4 linked regions of the Homo sapiens genome follow. The protein of the gene in region 2 purifies or fractionates together with the protein of the main gene of each other region. This does not show direct contact. Each region holds a gene or a part of one and is shown on either strand. Other genes may lie near its edges. The genes, in order: ZBTB40, ZNF689, MTCL2 and ANKS3.

Region 1 (5,189 bases), on a different chromosome or scaffold from region 2:
GCCATGGCACCAGGATATTATAAGACATTCAGTGAAAAGGGGGTTTCAAGGTCTGTTAGGTCTAAAAATACTGAGTTAATGTAAAAACAAACAATAGCAGTTGTTACCTACTGACCTCCTACTGAGTGCCTGGCATTTTACTATGAGTTTTATATAAATAATCTTAATTCACAATGACCCCATGATGTAGGTGATAGTATCCCCTTTTTACAAACGAGGACACTGAGGCTTATAAAGATGAAGCTGCCTAAAGTCACAATGCTAGTAAATAGTAGAGGTGGATAAATGAATTGTATATCCACACAATGCATACAACTCAGCAATAAGAAGGAATGAACACACAACACTAGGGGCGTACCTCTGTAGAATTCACAGAAAAAGAAAAAAGGAAAAAAAAAAAAAAACATGGGTGAATCTCAAGATACTTACGCTCAATGAAAGCCAGACAAAAAATACACACCATATGACTCCATTTATACAATACTCTAGAAAATACAAACTTACGTACAGTGACCGAAAGCAGACCAGTGGTTACCCAGGGCATGGGTAAGTGGAAGGGGCAGGAGAGAGGGGTAGTACACAGGGACAAGAAGAAACTTTTGGGGGTGATGGAGATGTTTACCATCTTAACTGTGGTGATGGTTTCAGGGCATATACCAAAACTAATCACACTGTACACCATACCTAGCTACAGGTTACTGCATGTCAGTCATAGCTCAACAAGGCTGTCTGAAACAAAGTATGAGAGAGAGACAGAGAGAGAGAGAAGTAGAGGCCGAAGTACAAAGCAGCATCTCCCTAACTCTCTATTTAATCTTATATTCTTAAAGTATCTGTTCCCTTTTTCTTTCTGAAGTTCAAAGGTTATGGACTGTAACAGAATTGGCTTTAAAAACAGCCACCAAGTGATTTGCAGAGCTCCTACTCTGACCTCTAAAACTGAGGAAGAAATAACATAAGCCTATAATGATCACCAACAGCAAATCAGTGTTCTTTTGAAGTATATTAATGATATTGCCATCAAAAGATTAGAACAAGAAATGGAAAAAAAGAAATGTTGAACGAATGCATGTATAACAGACATTTCTTCATCACCTGTTACATGCCACATACTTTTAGGTACCAATGTTAAAAAAAATGCATAAGACACAGTTCAACTAAGTATAAAGGTGACACTAATAACTTGAGTATTGCTGATCTAAGGAATAACGTTACTCCTCTGTAGCCAAAGTTAAGTGGAGAGGAAGCTTTAAGAGAAAATGAAGAGGTGTGTTTAGAAGCTATCAAGGTAACAAACTAATGACAAAAATGATGGATTGAACAGTTAAGAGAACACGCAAGTGCAAAAATATAAAACCATAATGTCCTTCAGCATAATCAGTACAAAGAGTACCAAGGATTTATGACTTGAAACCTCCCAAAGAGAGTCATCAGGGTTAGCCTAGCCTTGTAAATAGCTTGTCTCCCAAGAAAACAATGTATAGTCGACTGTCAGTTAACACAGCTAAAATAAATACTAGACCTTGAATTTGTTTTTTAAAAAAGTTGCTATGAATCAGGAAAACATTTAATTATTAGAAGGCATGTATTACTTGGACTAATACAAAATTGCCTATAGCAACATGGGAGGATCGGCCCACACTACCCCCTACCAATCAGAGGAGCAAGCCTGCCGGGGCAGCGCCCTCTCACTCTGCCAGCAGCCTCTCAGAAAGGGGAAGCAGGGCTGGGAGAAAAGGGAAATAAATGGAATTCTAAATTGGTTGTGGAGTCGAATCCTGCAGGGTCAGGTGTGAAGAATCAAGTATTGAGAGATCACACAGGTGGAAATGCGTCTCAACTGAGTTACTTAAAAAAAGAGGTCAGCTAAGAAAGCATGATAGCCATTTGGCAGTTTCCTGTCAGGCGATTCCTAAGCACTTATATATATATGCATCACTTTTACCCTGTTGGGAGGCAGTATAAACTCAGTGTGTAAGGGAGCAGCTCTAAAGTTAGAATGCTGAGGTTTCAATTCTGGCTCAGGGTCATATGAGCTCTGTGACCTTCGCCAAATTACACCACCTCTTTGAGACAGTTTTCTCATGCATAAAACAGGACTTAACAATAATACTCACACTGATGATTTTTGTGAAAATTAAATGCGGTAACACATATGCCAAGCTTAATACAGGAAGTGTTCGTTGAATGTTTACTATTACTGTTTTTATGTCTGAAAATGGCCACTGTTATTCCTAAATATTAGATGCATTTTACCAATAATTTATAAGTTTATATAAAGTCCTTTTTGTTCATGTTTTGAGTATCTGTTGTTTTGTTTTAATTTTAATGGTTTAAGTCTCAGGTTTGAGGTTATACATGGCTACCTTCTTAATCTTATCTGTGATTAATCAGGAGTAAATGGTATGATCAGTTAAGTATTCTGGATCAAAACTGGTTAGAAGCTAGGATTCTCCTGGTGATCAAGATGTAATGTCATTTTGAAAGTATCCTGCCTAAGTACTTTTGCAAGACTGCCCTTTAGGGAATAAATGTCCAAAAAAAAAAAAAAATTAAAGTTTCAAAACATTGAAACCCTGGGCTATTTCTGCCCCATATAAAAAGTTAGTAAGGTATCCTGAGAACACTAAACTAGCAAACAAGTACAAAAGTCAGAGGTGCCTACCTCCTTCTGTGGACCTTTAATTTCTGAACACATTTCTAGTTTTTTTAAAACATCCTGGGTAACCATGAGTGCATCTGAGAAGACACCTTCATTTTCTAGAAGAAAATTCAGCTGGTAGTGTTTCCTTTCACATCCTAAATGTAGAACAAAATAAAACAAATCAGAAATTCATTACTTGAAATAAATTTTTACAAGTTTAAGCTGTCTGAGCACCTTCAGGTCATATACTGCACTTAACTGATCTCTGTCTAGCACATCAGTTATGAATAACAGACAACAGTATCTCTCACAGCTTCCTCCTTTGTGCTGTCCTCAGCCTGGTTAAAATAGCAGATAATCAGCAGGGCACGGTGGCTCACGCCTGTAATCCCAGCACTTTGGGAGGCTGAGGCGGGTGGATCATGAGGTCAGGAATTCGAGACCAGCCTGGCCAACATGGTGAAATCCCATCTCCACTAAAAATACAAAAAATTAGCTGGGCGTGGTGGCACATGCCTGTAATCCCAGCTACTCAGGAGGCTGAGGCAGGAGAATTGCTTGAACCCAGGAGGCGGAGGTTGCAGTGAGCTGAGATCATGCCATTGCACTTCAGCCTGGGCAACAGAACAAGACTCCGTCTCGAGAGAAAACAAAACAAAACAAAACGAAACAGATAATTATCGAAATGGTACGTCATTATTCCAATACTGCTTTTCTGCTCTGTAGTTCATGTTTGGACTTTCAATGTTCAAAAACACAGACACTTTTAAAAGAATGGCCCAGTACGGTACTGCACTGAATTTTGGTTTTCTACCTAACAGTGGTCTTTGATAAATTTATTAATCAAACATTAAAACTGATAAAGATCATTGAAAACAGAAGGATGGAATATAAAACAATGACTGTTACCTGGTTCTGTGCTTGTCTTCTTTGCCTCACTAAAGGTTTGCACAGCAGGGGAGGGGGAACAAGCTTCAGCTGTAGTAGGAGTCTCCGCTGGGGTTTCTGCATTCCTCTGGCTCTCCTGGGCTGTGGGAGAATTCACACTCATCTCTTGTGAAACTGAATGGGCTGCTTCCTCAGTCTCAGCTTTCACAGGGCCCCCTGGAGTGGCAGCAAGCTCTGGGGAAGAATGAGGCTCTCCAGCACCTTCAGATGAAAGGATTTCTACTTGAGGCTTCTCTGGTTCCTTTCTGAATGTCTCTGAGGATGGCGCAGAGACATCCCTTACCACCTGACCCTGAACCGAGCAGTTTACAAGGCTGGTCAGAAGATTTTTGCAGCTAACAGCTACATCAAACATCTGTAGACTGTCTGCTAAGGAGATGATTTTGGAGAAGTTGTGCTTGCCCACAGGTAGTTTGCCCGTGTACATCATTTCCAACAAGAGCGCAAACTCCTCGGGGCTCACCACAGATGCATCGATGGAGATGGTATCTGTGTTATCCAGCAGGGTTTTGAACAGGAGGCTGGCAGCAGCCAGGACAAGCTTGTGAGCCCTGAAGTAAATGGTACCAATGGAGATGGTGCAATCACAGAACTGCTGCTCCTTGCACAGAGTGTACAGCTGCTGCAGCAGCTGCCGGCTGTAGTTGGGGAGCTCCATTGCGTCAACTCTGCCCCAAGAACTGCTCTTCCTCTCCTCTCCTTAGAGTTGGCTTTGGGAGGACAGGCCCTAGAGAAACCCACAAAATACCAGGTTAAAACTTCAAAAAACCATAGGGAAAGGCCTTGAATGAAACGCTAAATGAACAGAAAGGCATTTCACTCATTCATCCAACAAATATTGCTTAATAGGAAGGGACAGTATGCCAGGTATACTAAATCAGTAATGATCATTATCATTATGTGTTTAAATATATGAAAGAGACTGTGCATAATGCTTTGTATGGACGGTCTCATTTGATTCTCACAACGATTCAGTGGAAAAGATATTATTTCCTCCCCATTTTACAGATGAGATTGGAGCTTTGAAGGACCAAGAGAATCACCCTAAGGAAAAACAGCCATCTCACTGACTTCGAAGCTCTAACTACACTACCATTCCTGCTCCCAAAAAGCTCTCAGCCACCTAGAGGAGATAAATATGTAGACGGAGACTTACAATACAATGTCCTTGGCTTATTCAGTCTAGCCCTAACAAGGGACGGAGGTCATCATTCTCTTCCTCTGAAAATACATTTTTCACTTGGTTCTCCTTCTCACTCACTAGCCATGCCTTCCCAGTCTCCTTGGTTGAGTCCTCTGCATCAGCGCAGCCTTTAAAGCTTGGAGTGCTCGAGGACCCAGTCATCCCGCCTCTTACCTTCCCTCTCTTCTGATTCCATAGCTTTGAAATATCATCTAAATGCTGACAGCTTTCAGATTTATGTCTCTGGCTCAGCCTGTTCCTCTGAACTCCTGATGTAGACCTCCAACTACCTATTCAACATCTCCAACTGGAACCTGGTTTCTGAAACGTAACATATCCAAAACTCTCCTGCCACTTTCCCACCTCACAGCAATTCTGTCCTTCTAGTTCTTCAGACTAAAACCAAGTCATCCT
Region 2 (5,860 bases):
TCCAATCTACCTTGTAGAAACCATATTAGTTTTTTCCCATTTTTTTGATGCAATACAAATGTCACCTTCCCTATCTTTCTTTCATAAGAGATTGCATACACATGCTTTACAGCGTATGTTCTCTTCCCCACCTTTCTTTTTTTTTTTCTTTTTTGAGACAGAGTCACGCTCTGTCACCCAGGCTGGAGTGCAATGGTGTGATCTCAGTTCACTGAAATCTCCGCCTCCCGGGTTCAAGTGATTCTCCCTGCCTCAGCCTCCTAAGTAGCTGGGATTACAGGCATGCACCACTATGCCCAGCTAATTTTTTGTATTTTTAGTAGAGTCAGGGTTTCACCATGTTGGCCAGGTTGGTCTCGAACTCCTGACCTCAGGTTATCTGCTCACCTCTATCTCCCAAAGTGACTACAGGCGTGAGCCACCATGCCCAGCTCACCTTTCTTATACAAAAGACAACATATACACACCTTATACACACTTTACATTTTTTCACTTAATATATTCTAAAGATCATTTTATGTCAGCAAATCTTTTTTCTATTTTACAGCTACACAGAATTCCATTGTGGATGGTTTATTTGACTTAGCTGATTCTTTAAAAAATGTGGCTGGGCGTGGTGGCTCATGTCTGTAATCCTAGCACTTTAGGAGGCTGAGGCAGGCGGATCACCTGAGGTCAGGAGTTCAAGACCAGCCTGGCCAACATGGTGAAACCCCGTCTCTACAAAAATATAAAAATTAGCTGGGCACAATAGCAGGTGCCTATAATCCCAGCTACCCAGAGGCTGAGGTGGGAGAATCACTTGATCCTGGGAGGCGGAGGTTGCAGTGAGCCAAGATCACGCCATTGCACTCCAGCCTGCATGACAGAGTGAGACTCCATCTCAAAAAAAAAAAAAAAAAAAAAAAAAAGAATTAAAATTATGCAGTGTTAGAAACGTAAGTCCCAGCCAAGCGCAGTGGCTCATTCCTATAATCCCAGCACTTTGGGAGGCCAAGGTGGGCGGACTGTGAGGTCAGGAGTTCGAGACCAGCCTGGCCAACATGGTGAAACCCCGTCTCTACTAAAAATACAAAAATTAGCCGTGCATGCTGGCGGGCGCCTGTAATCCCAGCTACTTGGGAAACTGAGTCAAGATGATTACTTGAAACCGGAAGGCAAAGGTTGCAGTGAGCCAAGATTGCACTACTACACTCCAGCCTGGGTGGAAGAGCAAAACTCCGTCTCAAAAAAAAAAAAGAAAAGAAACATAAGTCCCAAGGCTCAGTGTACAGTGTGCACAGGCCCTAAGATCTTCTTAGACACAAAGTGTAAAAGCAAGACAGGCTGGGCGCGGTGGCTTACACCTGCAATCCCAGCACTTTGGAAGGCCAAGGCAGGCGGATCACCTGAGGTCAGGAGTTCGAGACCAGCTTGACCAATATGGAGAAACCCTGTCTCTACTAAAAATTAGCCGGGTGTGATCGTGGGCACCTGTAGTCCCACCTACTCCAGAGGCTGAGACAGGAGAATTGCTTGAAACCGGGAGCAAGAGGTTACAGTGAGCTGAGATCGTGCCACTGCACTCCTGCCTGGGCAACAGAGCAAGACTCCGTCTCACACACACACAAAAGAGTGTAAGGCAAGATATGGAAACCTATGAGGTATGAGCTAGCAGTGACTGGGTCAAAAGGCCCTCTAAGCCAATGGTTCTCAAACTCCACTGTGATCAGAATCATTGGGAGGATTTACTGAAACAGAATGCCAGGCCCTAGTGCCCGCTTTGGATTCAGCAGGTCTGGGGTAGGGTCCAAGAATGTGCATTTCTAACAAGTTTCCAAATAATGCTGCTTCTGGTCTGAGACCACGCTTTGAGAACCACTGCTGTTAGCATTGTTAAAGACCTTGGACTGTATTTTACCCAATGGTTTTCTTTTCTTTTTTTTTTTCCCCCAAGATGGAGTCTCACTGTGGCACCCAGGCTGGAGTACACTGGCATGATCTCGGCTCACTGTAACTTCCACCTCCCAGGATCAAGCAATTCTCCCTGCCTCAGCCTCCTGAGTAGCTGGAATTACAGGCGCCCACCATAGTGCCCGGCTAATTTTTGTATTTTTTTAGTAGAGACGGGGTTTCACGATGTTGGTCAGGCTGGTCTTGAACTCCGGACCTCAAGTGATCTACCCACCTCGGCCTCCCAAAGTGCTGGGATTACAGGCATGAGCCACCAGCCGGCCGGTTTTCAAACCTAGATGCACATCTGAATCAGCTGAGGCTATTTAAAAAATGGAAGTTCCTAAACATTCACACGAGTGAATGAATAGCTCTGGGATGGGGTCCTGGAACCTGCGTTTTTACCAAGTTCCCCAAGTGATTTAGATATAACCAATGGCCATTTAACAACCTTGGCAAAAATTAACTGAAAAGTTTTAAGCAAGGAAATATCATGGTCAGATCTGAATCTTGGACAGCTATCCCTGGTCTTGAAGAATCTGGCTCTGAAATTCCAGCCCAGACAGCTCCATCTTCTACTATGGGTGGATCTGGGACCCTTCTACCTGAATGGGGTTAAGCAGAGCCTTGTTGGATTCTGAGGAGATTGCAGTATGTCCTTCGCTGATAAGGGTCATCCTGCCGTAAGAGCAGAAAGAGGCCCCTGCATCCCAGGCAGCTGTTCCCCATGAGCTCCCTTCAACCAAAACCCAGAAAACTCTGAGAAGTTTAGGATCTCTTTGGTCCAACTCAAAGGTGGCTAGAGGCAGAGATCCTGGAAAGGAGGCAGAGGGTAGCACCTGTTAAAAGCTCACTGATTCTGGCTGGCTGCAATGGCTCACGCCAGTAACCCCTGCATTTTGGGAGGCCAAGGCAGGAGGATCGCTTGAGGCCAGAAGTTCAAGACCGAACTGAGCAAGACAATGTTTCTACAAAAAAAAAAAAAAAAAAAAAAGACGAAGAATAAGCCCACTGATTCATTCACACAGTGGAAAACTGCAGCTTGCAGACTGACATAGGAATCTCTGTGTGGTGGACCGGCCCCACACCACCAGACACAAGAGGCTGGGAAGATGAATATACTAAATACGCGGCACCCACCCCTAGCCCAACCAAAACTCTGGACAGAGCCGTTAGAGGTAGAACGTTATAGGAGGGCTGCAGGCTCTGCGTGGTTATTTAGCACTCACTTCTCTGGACTGTTAGCCCTCTCGGGTACTCCTGCGGATCTAGAGCAGCCGGTTCCCAGTCATCGGTGTTTCGTTCCAACCAGGAGATGAGGGCTGGTTTGGGACCTGCGCACCCTGGGGAAAGAGAACAAATCAGAAGGCCAGCTCCTAGATCACGCCGAGTAGTATCTCCCCGACGGCACCTCCTGCTAAGCCCCTGCCCACCTCCCCTGACAACCTGGTCGCCTGCCAGGACCGTGGCCTCCCTGCCTACACCCTCTCCGGCTCCTGCATCCCTTCGCGCCCCGCGGCAGCGGATGGGGCCGGCCTCACCGAGCGCGCCCAGGTGACCGTAGGTCTCCCGCATCACGTCCCGGTACAGGGCCCTCTGCGCGGGCCGCAGGCAGCCCCACTCCTCCGGGGAGAAGTACACGGCCACGTCCACGAACTTCAGAGCCCTCGGCCTCCTGCCCCTTTTCCGACTGGGTCTGGCCTTTCCTGGTCCCTGCGCAGGGAGCGGAGCCGAAGGTGGCGCCATGGGACCCGAGAAGCCGGCGCCACGGCCTTCCGTGTCCAGGCCTCGGCCCTCGGGCGCTGGCGGCCCCTGGGATCGAGGAGCCCCTGCCGGACCAGGGCTGAGCGTGGCCGGGGAGGCCCGGAGGGAATCGGAATTGGTCGCCCGCGGGGCTAACGGAAACCTTTTGCTGTTATTCAGGAAACTCCTGCCCGAACTTGGGTGAAAGGCACCGGAAGATGCCTTCGGGGAAAATGGCGGCGCTGCTACCGCACCGCCTTTGCCTGGAACACAGGCAGCTTCCAGCTATCGATTTTATTGACCGGAGCGCCATGCCGGCTTCCTAACCTCTTTGCCCTCAAGTGTAATGGCGCTGCGATTGGGCTTCACGCCGTCTTTTTTCCCCTCCCCAATACGCGCGTTCATTGGACGAGAGCCGAAGATCGAGCGTTCTGATTGGGTGCTAGCAAAGGCGGTCCGTTTGAACGAAGCCAAGAGCTGCATAAGGGCAGGAAGCTGGACTGCTAGGATCAGGCGACTACAAGGAGTTGTGAAGCGACTTGCACCGACCTGGGGGCAGCAAGAGGCCCCGGGGCTGCTTTCCGCTGTTCGACTCTGGCAGGCTCAGCCAATCACTGAAGGAGGGAACGATTTGAGCGATGGAGCCACTCTGGCCGAGTTAGAGCTGAGATTATCCTGAGTTCCTTTTACTGGTGTTCTCAGAGCATCCTTGACTTTGGAGAATGGTTATCTTCTTTGTTTGCCCTTTAGGGGAGGGAATTATGGTTAGCATTTCCTGGGGGCAGGCGCCATGCCCAGCATATTACATATTTCATCTTTATTATTTTTTATTTTTATTTTATTTATTTATTTTTGAGACAGAGTCGTGCTCTGTCGCCCAGGCTGGAGTGCAGTGGCGAAATCTCGGCTCACTGCAGCTTCCACCTCCCACGTTCAAGCGATTCTCCTGCCTCAGCCTCCCGAGTAAGTGAGATTACAGGCGCGTGCCACCACTCCTGACTAATATTCATATTTATTAGCAGAGATGGGGTTTCACCATGTTAGCCAGGCTGGTCTCGAACTTCTGACCTCAAGTGATTCACCCACCTCGGCCCCACGAAGTGCTAGGATTACAGGCGTGAGCCACTATGCCCGGCCTTATTTTTATTTTTTTGAGACAGGGTCTCACTCTGTTACCCGGGCGGGATGGAATGCAGTAGTGCAATCTCAGCTCACTGCAGCCTCTAACTCCTGGGCTCAAGCAATCGTCCTGCCTCAGCCTTCAGAGTAACTGGGACTACTGGTGTGCACTACCACGCCTGGCTAATTTTTTATGTTATTTGTTGAGTCAGGGTTTCCCTGTGTTGCCCAGGCTGGTCTCGAACCCTTAGGCTAAGTGATCCTCCTGCCTCGTCCTCCCAAAGGGCTGGGATTACTGGCATAAGCCACAGCACCGGAGCCATTAGTTATTCGCTTTTTTTTTTTGAGACTGGGTCTCATTCCGTTGCCCAGGCTGGAGTGAAGGCATGCACCCACAGTGCTCTGCTAATTTTTTGTATTTTTGGTAGAGACGGTGTTTCGCCATGTTTCCCAGGCTGGTCTCGAACTCCTGAGCTCAAGCAATCCGCCCACCTCGGTCTCCCAAAGTGCTGGGATTACAGGAGTGAGCCACCACACCCAGCCCGTTATTAATTCTTTACTAGCATTTTGTGAACCAATGGTTATCATCCTGGTTCTACTAATGAAGAAACGATCTCAGAGGGATTCCATGAGTTTCCAGGGCCATACTGCTAGTAAGGAGTGGGGAATAAAGATTTAAACCTGGGGCAGACAGAGCCTTTATTCATACCACTGATAGGCATCCTTCCTTCACAGTATCCTAATTTGCTTGCTAAACCAGGAATCCACCTGAGCTCTTGTTTTCTTCTCAAGTTCAATATTCTGCATAATCTCCCTACATTATTTTCACGTGACATTTGTTCAACGTACAAAGCATAGTGCTAGGCAATTGGGAGAGCGTACATAAATAAGTCATAGGCCATGCTTTGAATGGAGCTTACAGTCTAGTAAAGCATATAAATTCACAATGAATCATAACAGAATGATACAAGCATGTATGTGAAAGGCACTGAACTGAAAATTGCTGATGGAACAAGCCAGCACCCACCCCATTAGCCTCCACATTTTTTTTTTTTTTTTTTTTTTG
Region 3 (4,985 bases), on a different chromosome or scaffold from region 2:
CCTTGCCATCTTTGTTGTCTCAGCCAGACCTTGGTTTTCAGTAAAGCCCCAGTTTCTACTTCCTGCATGCCACTGTGCAAGGCCACTCATCACTGTTCCTGCAGAAGCCTCTGGACGTGGGGCTGGATGGGGTTGAAAATGTTACATGTAAATATTGGTTTGGTTCGGTTTTTAGCATTTTACTTGGTAACTGGTTGTTTTCTTTTTTGGGGTGGGGGGATTGGTTTGTAAAAATTCTCTACTCTTTTGGAATGTGATTTCTAAGTTTGTTGGTTTCTTCAAATGCCTTTTAAGTCTTGGTAACATTCCCAAAGCAGAAAACTGCCTGACCCACAGTGGGGATTCCCTGGAGAATTGGGGTCCCAAGAAGGAATGCTGCCCTTCTCGAACCCGTTCTCCCCCTTCCTCCTGCCTCTCTGCCTTTTACTGCTATTCCCTTCTTCTCCTCCTTTATCCTTCTTTCTGTTTTCCCCATCTCCACTCTCTCTTCAACCAAAGTCCCAAGGAACCCTCGGGGCTCAATCCCCCATAGACCACTTGGCTTGGGTCCATGGGGTTGGCATCAGTTGGTTGGCGGAAATGGGGGACCAGTTGGCATGATGGCCCTAAACTGGGAAACCTCATGTTTCTTATGTCTCACCTCTTTCCAGAGCCAAATCAGCCCCTTTTGGAATGATGACTTCATTGGAATGCAAATCAAGTCATTTTGGTGCATCAGTGGCTCTTAGGCCTGCACACACGAGACATCAGAATCCAATCCTCTGACCCTGTGCCAGCCCTTTCCCCCAGTTTATTTCCCACCAAAGGCTGACCTCTAAGAGGTCTTGCTTTCTATGAACTCAAGATGGGTCCCACCTCTAGGTGTCCCCAGGTGCACTCTTCTACCGGTTGGCTTCCGATGTGACAAGGCCAAGGGCCCAAAGACTTGACCCTCTTACACCCTTGCTGACATGGTTCCATCATGTCCACCCGCATGCACTTTTATGGTTTCATCACCCAGCCTCTTCTCCTCTGGCCCACCCAGCGTCCAGGCTCTTTCTCCCTCTCCCCTCCTATCTAGAATGTCCCCTGCTTCTAGCCTCACCAGACCCCCCAAGCTCCCACTACTTCTTCCATAATAATAGTAATAACAATGGTTATCATCATCCCCTGCACATCCCGCCTAAAGCACTTTACTATATAGAAAACGTTTCCCCTGGCCGGGCATGGTGGCTCACGCCTGAAATCCCAGCTCTTTGGGAGGCTGAGGCGAGCGGATCAGTTGAGGTCAGGAGTTCAACGCCAGCCTGGCCAACGTGGTGAATCCCTGTCTGTACTAAAAGTACAAAAAATTAGCTGAGCATGGTGGTGCGTGCCTGTAATCCCAGCTACTCGGGAGGCTGAGGTGGGAGAATCGCTTGAGCCCAGGAGGCGGAGGTTGCAGGAGCAGAGATTGCGCCACTGCACTCCAGCCTGGATGACAGAGTGAGACCCAATCTCAAAAAAGAAATCGTTTCCCACCCCACATCTCCTTCAGACCTCTCAGGGACAACTCTGGGAGGCAGCCTTGGCAGGACATGGGTTAGTGCGCCCATTTTGCTGTGAGGAAACTGAGGTACAGGTCTCATCCCAGAGCATGAGAAGTCACTGAGTTTAGATGAGAACTTGGGTCCAACTCTGTCCTGTTTGCTGTGCAAATCCGCTGCCCTGCTGGGGGCTTTTGGTGGGTCCAGAATACCCAGAATATGCTGCTGGCCAACCCAGGCATAAAACAAGTCCATTCTAGATCACTGAGCCTTGTGTATTCCAGAGGGTGATCTGAGGTCCCCATTCAGCAGAATTCTCTGAGGGCATGTTCAGAATGTAGATTCCTGGGCCCCACCTTGAATTTGCATGTTTAACAAACTCTCCTGGGGTTGAGGGGTGGGTGCAGTGGTCACACCTGTAATCCCAGCACTTTGGGAGGCTGAGGCGGGTGGATCACTTGAGCTCAGGAGTTCGAGCCTGGCCAATATGGTGAAACCCTGTCTCTACTAAAAATGCAAAAATTAGCCAGGTGTGGTGGCACATGCCTGTAATCCCAGCTACTTGGGAGGCTGAGGCAGGAGAATCACTTGAACCTGGTGGGGAGCAGCGGTTGCAGTGAGCCGAGATTGTGCCATTGCGCTCTAGCCTGGGCAACGGAATGAGACTTGTCTCAAAAAAAATAAAAAATAAAACCAGCCCTCCCCGGGGGATCTTAGGCACTATTGGCCACACCATTGGTGTTCGTGGCCCTGATTATTAGGCTATCTTTCTTTTTTTAAGTTTTTTTAGATTTATTTTTTATTTTATTTATTTATTTATTTATTATTTATTATTATTATTTTTAGAGACAGGGGGTCTCCCTATGTTGCCCAGGCTGGTTTCAAACTCCTGGGCTCAAGTGATCTGCCCTCCTCAGCCTCCCAAAGTGCTGGGGTTACAGGCAGGCATCAGCCACCGTGCCAGGTCATCTTCCTTTTTCTTTTTTTTTTGGAGACAGAGTCTTGCTCTGTCATTCAGGCTGGAGTACAGTGGCGCCATTTCAGCTCACCGCAGCCTCCACCTCCCAGGTTCAAGCAGTTCTCCTGCCTCAACCTCCCGAGTAACTGGGATTACAGGTGTGTGCCACCACACCCGACTAATTTTTTTATTTTTAGTAGAGACGGGGTTTCACCATGTTGGCCAGGCTGGTCTTGAACTCCTGACCTCAGGTGATCCACCCACCTCGGCCTCCCAAAGTACTGGGATTATAGGCGTGAGCCACGGCATCCAGCCTCATCTTTCTTTTAACCAATAAACATGATGCTGTATCTTAAAAAGAGCACTGAGCAGGGACTTAAGGGATCGAGTCCTCAACCAAACTGATTTAATTACTCAGGATTTTCAAAAAGCATCAGAGGCTATTTACAATCTTAATCATAGGGGTTCAGTAAAATAAAAATAAGAAGTAAAAAAGCAAGAGAAATTATTCTGTAAATCTAACTGGTGTAATTCCCATAATCATGCAATTAAGTTTTACTCTTGAGTTTCCTGACAGCCATTGGTAAAAAGAGAAACACATCAGGATTTATAATTTTTATCATCCAATTATGGGAAGCAAGCATGTTGGCCCCAGGAGACGAACTCTTCTACTAATTTATAGCATGTATCCTTTCATCAAGGGCCACTGAGCCAGTTGGTGAGTCAACGGGTGAACCTAAGATGCAAGGATGTTTTCCAGGTGACTATTTAAAAAAATAAATAATCCACCAACGTGATTGACCTTGGCGAGATCATGTTTCTAGTCTATACCTCAGTTTCCCCATCTGTAAAGTGAGGATAATGTCCCACCCCATGTAACTGTGGTGAGGACCAACTGCAACACTGTGCCTGCGAGTCTCCTTGGAAAAGTGTAAGGTTCTACACAAATGGAAAGTGATCTGATCACACTCAGTGTCCCCAGCCCAGCCTTTCAGTGCCCTGGCCCTGGGGTGGGGGACAATACTCTCCTCACCCCCTTCACTAGTCTTCATGAATAGCAAGGAGGCCATAACATAATTTGGTCTAAACCCCTTCCTTTTTAAAAGAATGATGGCAAAATGTGCATAACATTAAATTTACCATTTTAAAGATTTCTAAGTGTCTCGAAGTACATTTGCAATGTGTAACTGCCACCTCCAGAACTTTTTCATCATCCTAAACTGAAACTCTGTACCCACTAAACAGTAACTCCCCACTCCCCCTGTCCCCAGTCCCTGGTAACCTCTATTCTACTTTTTTTTTTTCTCTGTGGATTGGCCTATTCTAGGTATCTCTTTTAAGTAGAATCATATAGTATTTGTCCTTTTGTGTCCAGCCCCCTCATTTTTTGAGATGAGGAATCAGGCCCAGAGAAGGCAGTGGCTCACCCAAGGTCACATCGCAAACCAGAGGCAGAGCCAAGACCAGAACCCAGGTTTCCTGACTCCTAACAGGTCTTGCATCCCCAGTAGTGAATGAGACACTGCTTTGACTTTCTGTAATCTTGGTTTAGCCCCTTCCTTTCTCTGGGCTCAGTCTGCTTCCCACCACTCACCCATTCTTTCTTTATCATCTCCCTCCAAAGCCTCTTGTCCTCCTGCCTCCTCTTCTCCTTGGCTGGTTCCTGCCAGCAAATGGAGTGGCCCTGGTCCATGCCAGGTTTTCCTCTTCTGGGTCCGGAGCTCACTATAGTATTCAGCCCTCAGTCCTCCCAGGATGTTCTTCCCAGCACTGCTGCCTCGTGCGGATTTTCCCGTAACCTCAGTAACTGGCTTCTTGTCCCCCTGCTTCCTACCAGGGAAGCCTTCCTGTCCGCGTCTGTGGTTTCCCAACTCTGATATTTGCTCTCAAATGTGGTGGTGTCCTGGTTCTGTGTTTATTTATTTTGTGTTTTCTCACACACACAAAAAAAAGCCTCTTCCTCCAATGCATCAGGAGGCACCAGCCCTGCCAGCCCTTCTCACTGGGCTCACCCTGCCCCAGCAACCCCCCGGTGCCACCCTTAAGCCACACTGTCTTCTCTGTAAGCAGCCTGCCAGCAGCAGCCCCAGCACTTTGCAATGGGCGTGTGTGTGGTGGTGGGTGGGGGGGGCTTGGATCCCTCCTTTTTCCTCCCCTGCCCTGCCCAGGCCCAGATGGCCTTGACTGTAAAGCAGGTGCTGCCTGACAGGTTCTTCTCTCCCTGTCTCTGGTCATTGATCCATCTCTTTGTCCATTCAGTATCCAACCATCCTCTCCATTCTCCTCTGGACCTCACCACTCTCAGAGCTGCTTGTCCTGGCAGAATCTACAGTTCACCCCAACTCTATGCCTTACCCCTCCCAACCCAACAGCATTTGCAGTTTGCAAAATATACAGACCCAAGTCCTGAGGGGACTGAGGACATGATGCTGGGCCCAAGTCTCCTGCTCAGGGCTTCTCTCCAATGCCAGCCCTGCCACTCCTTCCTCACCCTCCTTGGAGCCTCCTCTGCTGCTTGTCTA
Region 4 (5,189 bases), about 26 Mb from region 2:
AGCCAGTTCAGGGCCTGGGGGAGAGCCAGCTTGGGGTAGGAAGTTAATAATACTGTTAATTTGGGTTGTTGTTGGATTTACTTTGCTAGATTTTCTCTTTCACCACGTGTGAACTGTGGGTGAGGTTTCAAAGTAGCTTCACCCCACGTGGCTTGGTTCCCAGGGACAGTCAGGGCCTCGGGGGCCCAGCTATGTACAACGAAGCTGTCGAAGGAGAAGACAATAAAGTCGCTCCGCAGCTGCTCTGTGTGTTTCTCAGCTGCCCTGTGTGTTTGTTTTGGTTCTGGATGGAACCAGCTCAGGCCCCCTGCCCTAGGTGGGGGAGGGAGGAGCTGCCCCAGCCAGGGGCACGTTTGTTCCCCAGTGTTTACTGGGGGCACTCCCAGCATGAATGCTGTGCCCATCAGCCAGGTTGGGGCGTCTGGGCCGAGACCTTCAGGGCAGGCTCCCCTTCCTGATCCTGGTGGCCCTGGCTGCACCTGGGCTGACCTGCTTTGCTTTGCAAACCCACCATTCCCCACTGTCTGCAAGCAGCTCCAGGGGATGGTGTAGAAGTGCAGGCTTACTGTGCAGAAGGACAGCAGCAGAGCCATCCCTCGTGGTCTCCTACAGCCCCACATCTGGAAAGACTCCAGCGGCATCGTCAGAAAATTTGCACAGCCCATGCCTGGCCCGGTGAGGGAGGCAGTGTGCCCAGCTCCATCTCAGAGCTCGGTGTGAGAGCAGCATGTCCCGGGGGAGGCCCTGTGCTACGGCGGGCTGGGGATGTTCTTGGCTCTCAAAGCCTTATCTTGAGTTGTCTGGGCTCCAGGAGCAAAAGACACACCCCTGAACAGCAGAGGACAGGGCAGTCAGGGTTGCTGCATTGGCCAGTGCCTCATGTCATGTGACCAGAACTGAGCCCTTCACTAGCTGTTCTTAAATTTTATTTTCCAAAAAATGGCATTTTCCAGGTGCCCCAGTCCTCATTCCTAAGGTCCCACCTCAGTTGGCACCTGTGCGTGTATATGGATACACTTTCCCCCCAGGGCCCTGCCTGGTATGGGCCAGGGCAGCCCATGAACTCTGGGCCTCACCACGAGGTTCTGGGTGAGGCCCTCGTCCCGCCTCAGTGCTGGCCCGAGCTGCCGAGCCAGGGCCGCAGCCCCCGTCTTGCCTCTGTCTGCCGGCTGCTCCCGGGGCCTGATCCTCTGGCCCCCACTGGGCCTGGGCTGCACATGGCAGCTACCTGCTCACTGTCCTCCTCACTCCCTGGCACACAGCTTCAGGGTGGACCAATCACCCAACGTCAGATTCTGAAAGAAAAAGCCCCGGTGAGAAGGGAGGGGGACAGGTGGGTGCATACCCACACCTGCAGCCGCCCAGACAGGCCCTGCTGCTCCCACCACGCGGGATCCAGGCTGGCAGACACTCACCGGCCCGCAGGCTAGGTCTCCCGCCACTTCTTCCCGTTCAGCACCTGCAGCTTCTCCAGGCTCTGGGTCACTAAGCACAGTGCTTGCCCTGAGGAATGATGACCTTGAGCCTCTCCCGGCCAGGCTCAGGAGGGCTGGGTGGTGCTGCCCCGGGGTCTCAGCTGCAGGATGTGACCTGCCCCTCACCCGTTATGGCCCCAGCCCCGAGGTCAGCCTTGGGGTAGAGAGACACAAACCCGCTTTCCCTGGAAAGGGGTCCCTTTGCCTCCCTCGGAAACAAAAGGAGCGCTCAGTCGTCTGGTCCCCGGAGACTCACCCATCTCACGGACACGGTCCTCCAGGGCTCCCGAGAGCTCGGGGAGGCTCATGGCCTGCAGGGACGCTTGCCAGCCCTTGGAGTCTGTGGTGCAGGTGCAGGGACCGAGTTAGCTGGGGGTCTGCGTCCCCACAGGCCCTGCTTTATTCTGAGCCCATGCAACCAGGAGAACCTGCTTGGATCAGAACCTCCCTACCCGCCTGACAGTGTCTAAGCAACCTCCCAAGGCCGAGGCAGGGAAGCCCTGTTGTGCCCTTCCTCCCACAGGCTGAGCAAACACTACGAGGCCCGGGTCAGCCCGAGAGAAGGCAAAGCTCTGCCGGTGGGGACCCGGGTCTGGGCCCTGGCTGGAGGCTACAGAAGTCACTGGCGGTCTCAGCACAGCACAGCCAGCCAAGGCACAGGGCCTTTCTCGAGTACCTCCTACCCCTGGGGGATAGGCAGTTTTCCTGTCACAGGTGAGGAAGTGGGCTTGGGTCCCCAGGGCCCCCTCTTTTCCTTGGACTCTGGGATCATGTGCACACAGGGACCTGGGAGAGTGGCTGCCGGCCGGAGAACCAGGCCAAGCCCACTGGGTCAAACCTGGCTTCAGGGCTCCCCCACCTTCCCCTCTGCCCAGTGCGGAGTCAGGCCACTGCTCTTACCAGCTGGGGGGACGGCTAGGCCCAGAGTGGCTGCACCAGGGGGCTGGTCCTGCCTCACTCGAGATGACAGCTCAGCTTGACAGGCTCTGCCAGACACAGAAACAAATATTGGTGAGAGCAGAGGCCTGGCCGCTGCAGAGCCCCCACCTCAGACCTTCTAGGGGAGGGAGGGGCTCAGCCCTGTCCTTGCAGCTGGCCCTCATGGGCTGGGCCAGTGCCCCATGAGGCTGCACTAAAGAGCAGGAGGGCGACCGGTGCAGATTCCCGGACCCAACTCCTGCCTGGGTCTGCCTGCAGGAAGGAAGGGCCTGATGAAATGGGGGTGGGGTGGCTCCAGACCCTGAAATCCACCCCTCAGTTACAAAATCAGGAGGAAAGGATGTGTGGGGGCCCAGGGGCCAGGTGGCTGACCACTGGAGACCCAGCCCAGGGCAGCTCAGAGCCACTCACCGCAGCTGGTCCAGGACGAGGGCAGCATCCCGGGCCAGGGCCCACGTCTCCCGCAGCCGGGCCTGGAGGTCCTCGCGGGCGCGGTCCTGCTCCAGCAGGCAGCTCTCCACCACGGCGCGCAGCTCCTGCTCCTGACACACCTGGCCCCGCGTGGCCTCTACCTCCTCGCAGCGCTGCAGGGGGGTGGGGGGCGCGGGGAGGCTGGGAGGTGGCCGGTCAAGCCAGACCCTTGGCCACGGCCCTGTCCTGTGTGTGGGGCCCTCTCCCCACTGCATCCACCTGACCCCTCCACACAGCACCCACCTTTTCTGTCAGAGATGGAGCCAACTCACGGGTGTCACCCTGCCCCCCCATCCCCCACCCAGCCACTCACCTTGTGCAGCTGGATGGCGAGCTCCTGCATCTCAGCCTCCAGCCGGTCGGCGTAGGCCAGCTCCAGGGCATCCCCGGGTGGGCGGGCACTGCTGTGCCAGCGGGCAATGGCGGACGTCATCTTCCTCTTGGGCCCAAACAGCCTGCGGGGGGAATGTGACCAGGATATGCCTCAGCGTCCCAAGAGCGCTTACATGAGTGGGAGTTTGCCCCAACCCCGGGCTGAGGGCCAGAGCGGCCCTTCTGGACGCACGTGATGCCAATTTCCTTCAGGTCGCTCTCAGTGAGGGTCAGAAAGATGCGGAGGTCCACGTCCTGCTCCTCAAACACCTGCAGGTACTTCAGACACCCGATCTGCTCCAGCAGTGCGGCAAGGTCCTGGCAGGCACAGGGGACAGGTTGGGGGAGGTAGTGGCTGACGACGAAGCAGAGACGTTTTCCTCCACTCGGAGCCCCACCACTTCCCCAGGCTCAGAACCAAGACAGTGCCTTGTGTGTGGCGCCCAGGCTGTCCCCTCCTACTCTGGTGGCTCAGGCAGGGCAGGATGTTGCAGGCAGGTGAGTCCTCACACTATGGTCGGCCACGTGGGGACAATGTATGTTCATCACCAGAAACTGGCCTCCTCCTCCCACACATGCTCAGTTCTGTGAAGGGACCATGGAGCTGCTGATCTCGACAATGCTTTGTAGGCGGAGAGCGCTGCCCTCTAATTCTAGAGTCTCAGTGTCGGATGTTCTGATTTCCACTTGTCTAAGCGCAGCTCTTCTCCGAGTTCACCTGTCTGGAGTTCACCGAGCTCCCTGGATGTAAGATCCGTGTTTCTGATCCACTGAGATGGTCAGGCTGTTTCTCACCCATCGTTTCTGCTCTCCTTCTGGAATGCCACTGTATGGGGTGGTGTCGGTGTGCTTGAGGGGATCACAGATTTCTGTTAATTTTTTTTACTCATTCTTTCTGTTCCTCAAGCGAGATGATCTCAGGTGACCTGTGTTCACAAGTTGTCTGACTCTTCTGCCTGCTCAATTCTGCTGTGAGCTCGTCTAGTGATATTTTCATTTCATTTACTTTTCAACTCCAGAAATCCTACTTTTGAGAGTTTATTGCTTTTAATGGACAAACAAATGTTACTCTGACATTTTCTTCAAGCTATTTTCTGAAAGAAACATACTTAGGACACTACCCTGACCAGACTCCACTCAACGTATGTTGAAGGGACCGAGACGTGTGCCTGCTCACTGAGCCAGGGGCTGCAGGGAGAAGCCGGCAAATCCAAGGCTCTACTGAACAGCAAAGCCAGTGCTTTAACAAATAACCAGCCAGGCCGGGCATGGCACCAGGCCAGGTGTGGTGGCTCACGCCTGTAATCCCAGCACTTTGGGAGGTCGAGGCGGGCGGATCACGATGTCAGGAATTTGAGACCAGCCTGGCCAACATAGTGAAATCCCGTCTCTACTAAAAATACAAAAAATTAGATGGGCATGGTGGCGGGTGCCTGTAATCCCAGCTACTTGGGAGGCTGAGGCAGGAGAATCGCTTGAACCCAGGAGGAGGAGGTTGCAGTGAGCCGAGATCGCGCCACTGCACTCCAGCCCAGATGACAGTGCGAGACTCCGTCTCGAACAAACAAACCAAATAACCAACCAGAGCTTCCCTCTGCCTCTCCTCTCCGTGCCTCTTCTGCCCACACAGGGTAGGAGAACTCAGCAGACACAGGTGAGACAGCTGAGCTGTGAGTCACACCTCTGATCCCTAAGGTAATGTGTGGTCAGAGGGACCACAGAAAGGAGGAGGATGGTGGCAGCTGTAACCATCACCAAGCACACACTGTGTGTAGTTCCTGTCTCTGCTTCAACCACATCTTGTCAGACTCCTGCAGGCAGCTCTGAGGTCAAGTGTGCTTTTCTTCTCCCCAGGCTCAGGGAGGCCAACTCCAGTATGGAAAGCAGGGAGACAGGTCCTTTCCGTGGAGAGGAACAGAGTAGAAGCGCTGC

What was found.
Region 1: the proteins of ZNF689 (region 2) and ZBTB40 purify together in Homo sapiens (co-immunoprecipitation; 2 studies listed by BioGRID and IntAct, with this or other methods). This does not show direct contact.
Region 3: the proteins of ZNF689 (region 2) and MTCL2 purify together in Homo sapiens (affinity purification with mass spectrometry; one large-scale study listed by BioGRID and IntAct). This does not show direct contact.
Region 4: the proteins of ZNF689 (region 2) and ANKS3 purify together in Homo sapiens (affinity purification with mass spectrometry; one large-scale study listed by BioGRID and IntAct). This does not show direct contact.

What each region holds. Positions count from the first base shown.
Region 1 is NC_000001.11:22,489,010-22,494,198, reverse strand, and holds part of ZBTB40 (zinc finger and BTB domain-containing protein 40), read right to left. Parts: intron 4,320-5,189; 5' UTR 4,251-4,319; coding exon 3,554-4,250; intron 2,800-3,553; coding exon 2,666-2,799; intron 1-2,665. UniProt on the Homo sapiens protein: May be involved in transcriptional regulation.
Region 2 is NC_000016.10:30,606,364-30,612,223, forward strand, and holds the start of ZNF689 (zinc finger protein 689), read right to left. Parts: upstream 4,027-5,860; 5' UTR 3,679-4,026; coding exon 3,474-3,678; intron 3,466-3,473; exon of another isoform or gene 3,379-3,465; intron 3,276-3,378; coding exon 3,162-3,275; intron 1-3,161. UniProt on the Homo sapiens protein: May be involved in transcriptional regulation.
Region 3 is NC_000020.11:36,779,047-36,784,031, reverse strand, and holds part of MTCL2 (microtubule cross-linking factor 2), read left to right. Parts: 3' UTR 1-4,985. UniProt on the Homo sapiens protein: Microtubule-associated factor that enables integration of the centrosomal and Golgi-associated microtubules on the Golgi membrane, supporting directional migration. Preferentially acts on the perinuclear microtubules accumulated around the Golgi.
Region 4 is NC_000016.10:4,695,602-4,700,790, forward strand, and holds the end of ANKS3 (ankyrin repeat and SAM domain-containing protein 3), read right to left. Parts: intron 3,576-5,189; coding exon 3,451-3,575; intron 3,341-3,450; coding exon 3,199-3,340; intron 2,999-3,198; coding exon 2,826-2,998; intron 2,462-2,825; coding exon 2,376-2,461; intron 1,816-2,375; coding exon 1,732-1,815; intron 1,504-1,731; coding exon 1,427-1,503; 3' UTR 1,416-1,426; intron 1,296-1,415; 3' UTR 910-1,295; downstream 1-909. UniProt on the Homo sapiens protein: May be involved in vasopressin signaling in the kidney.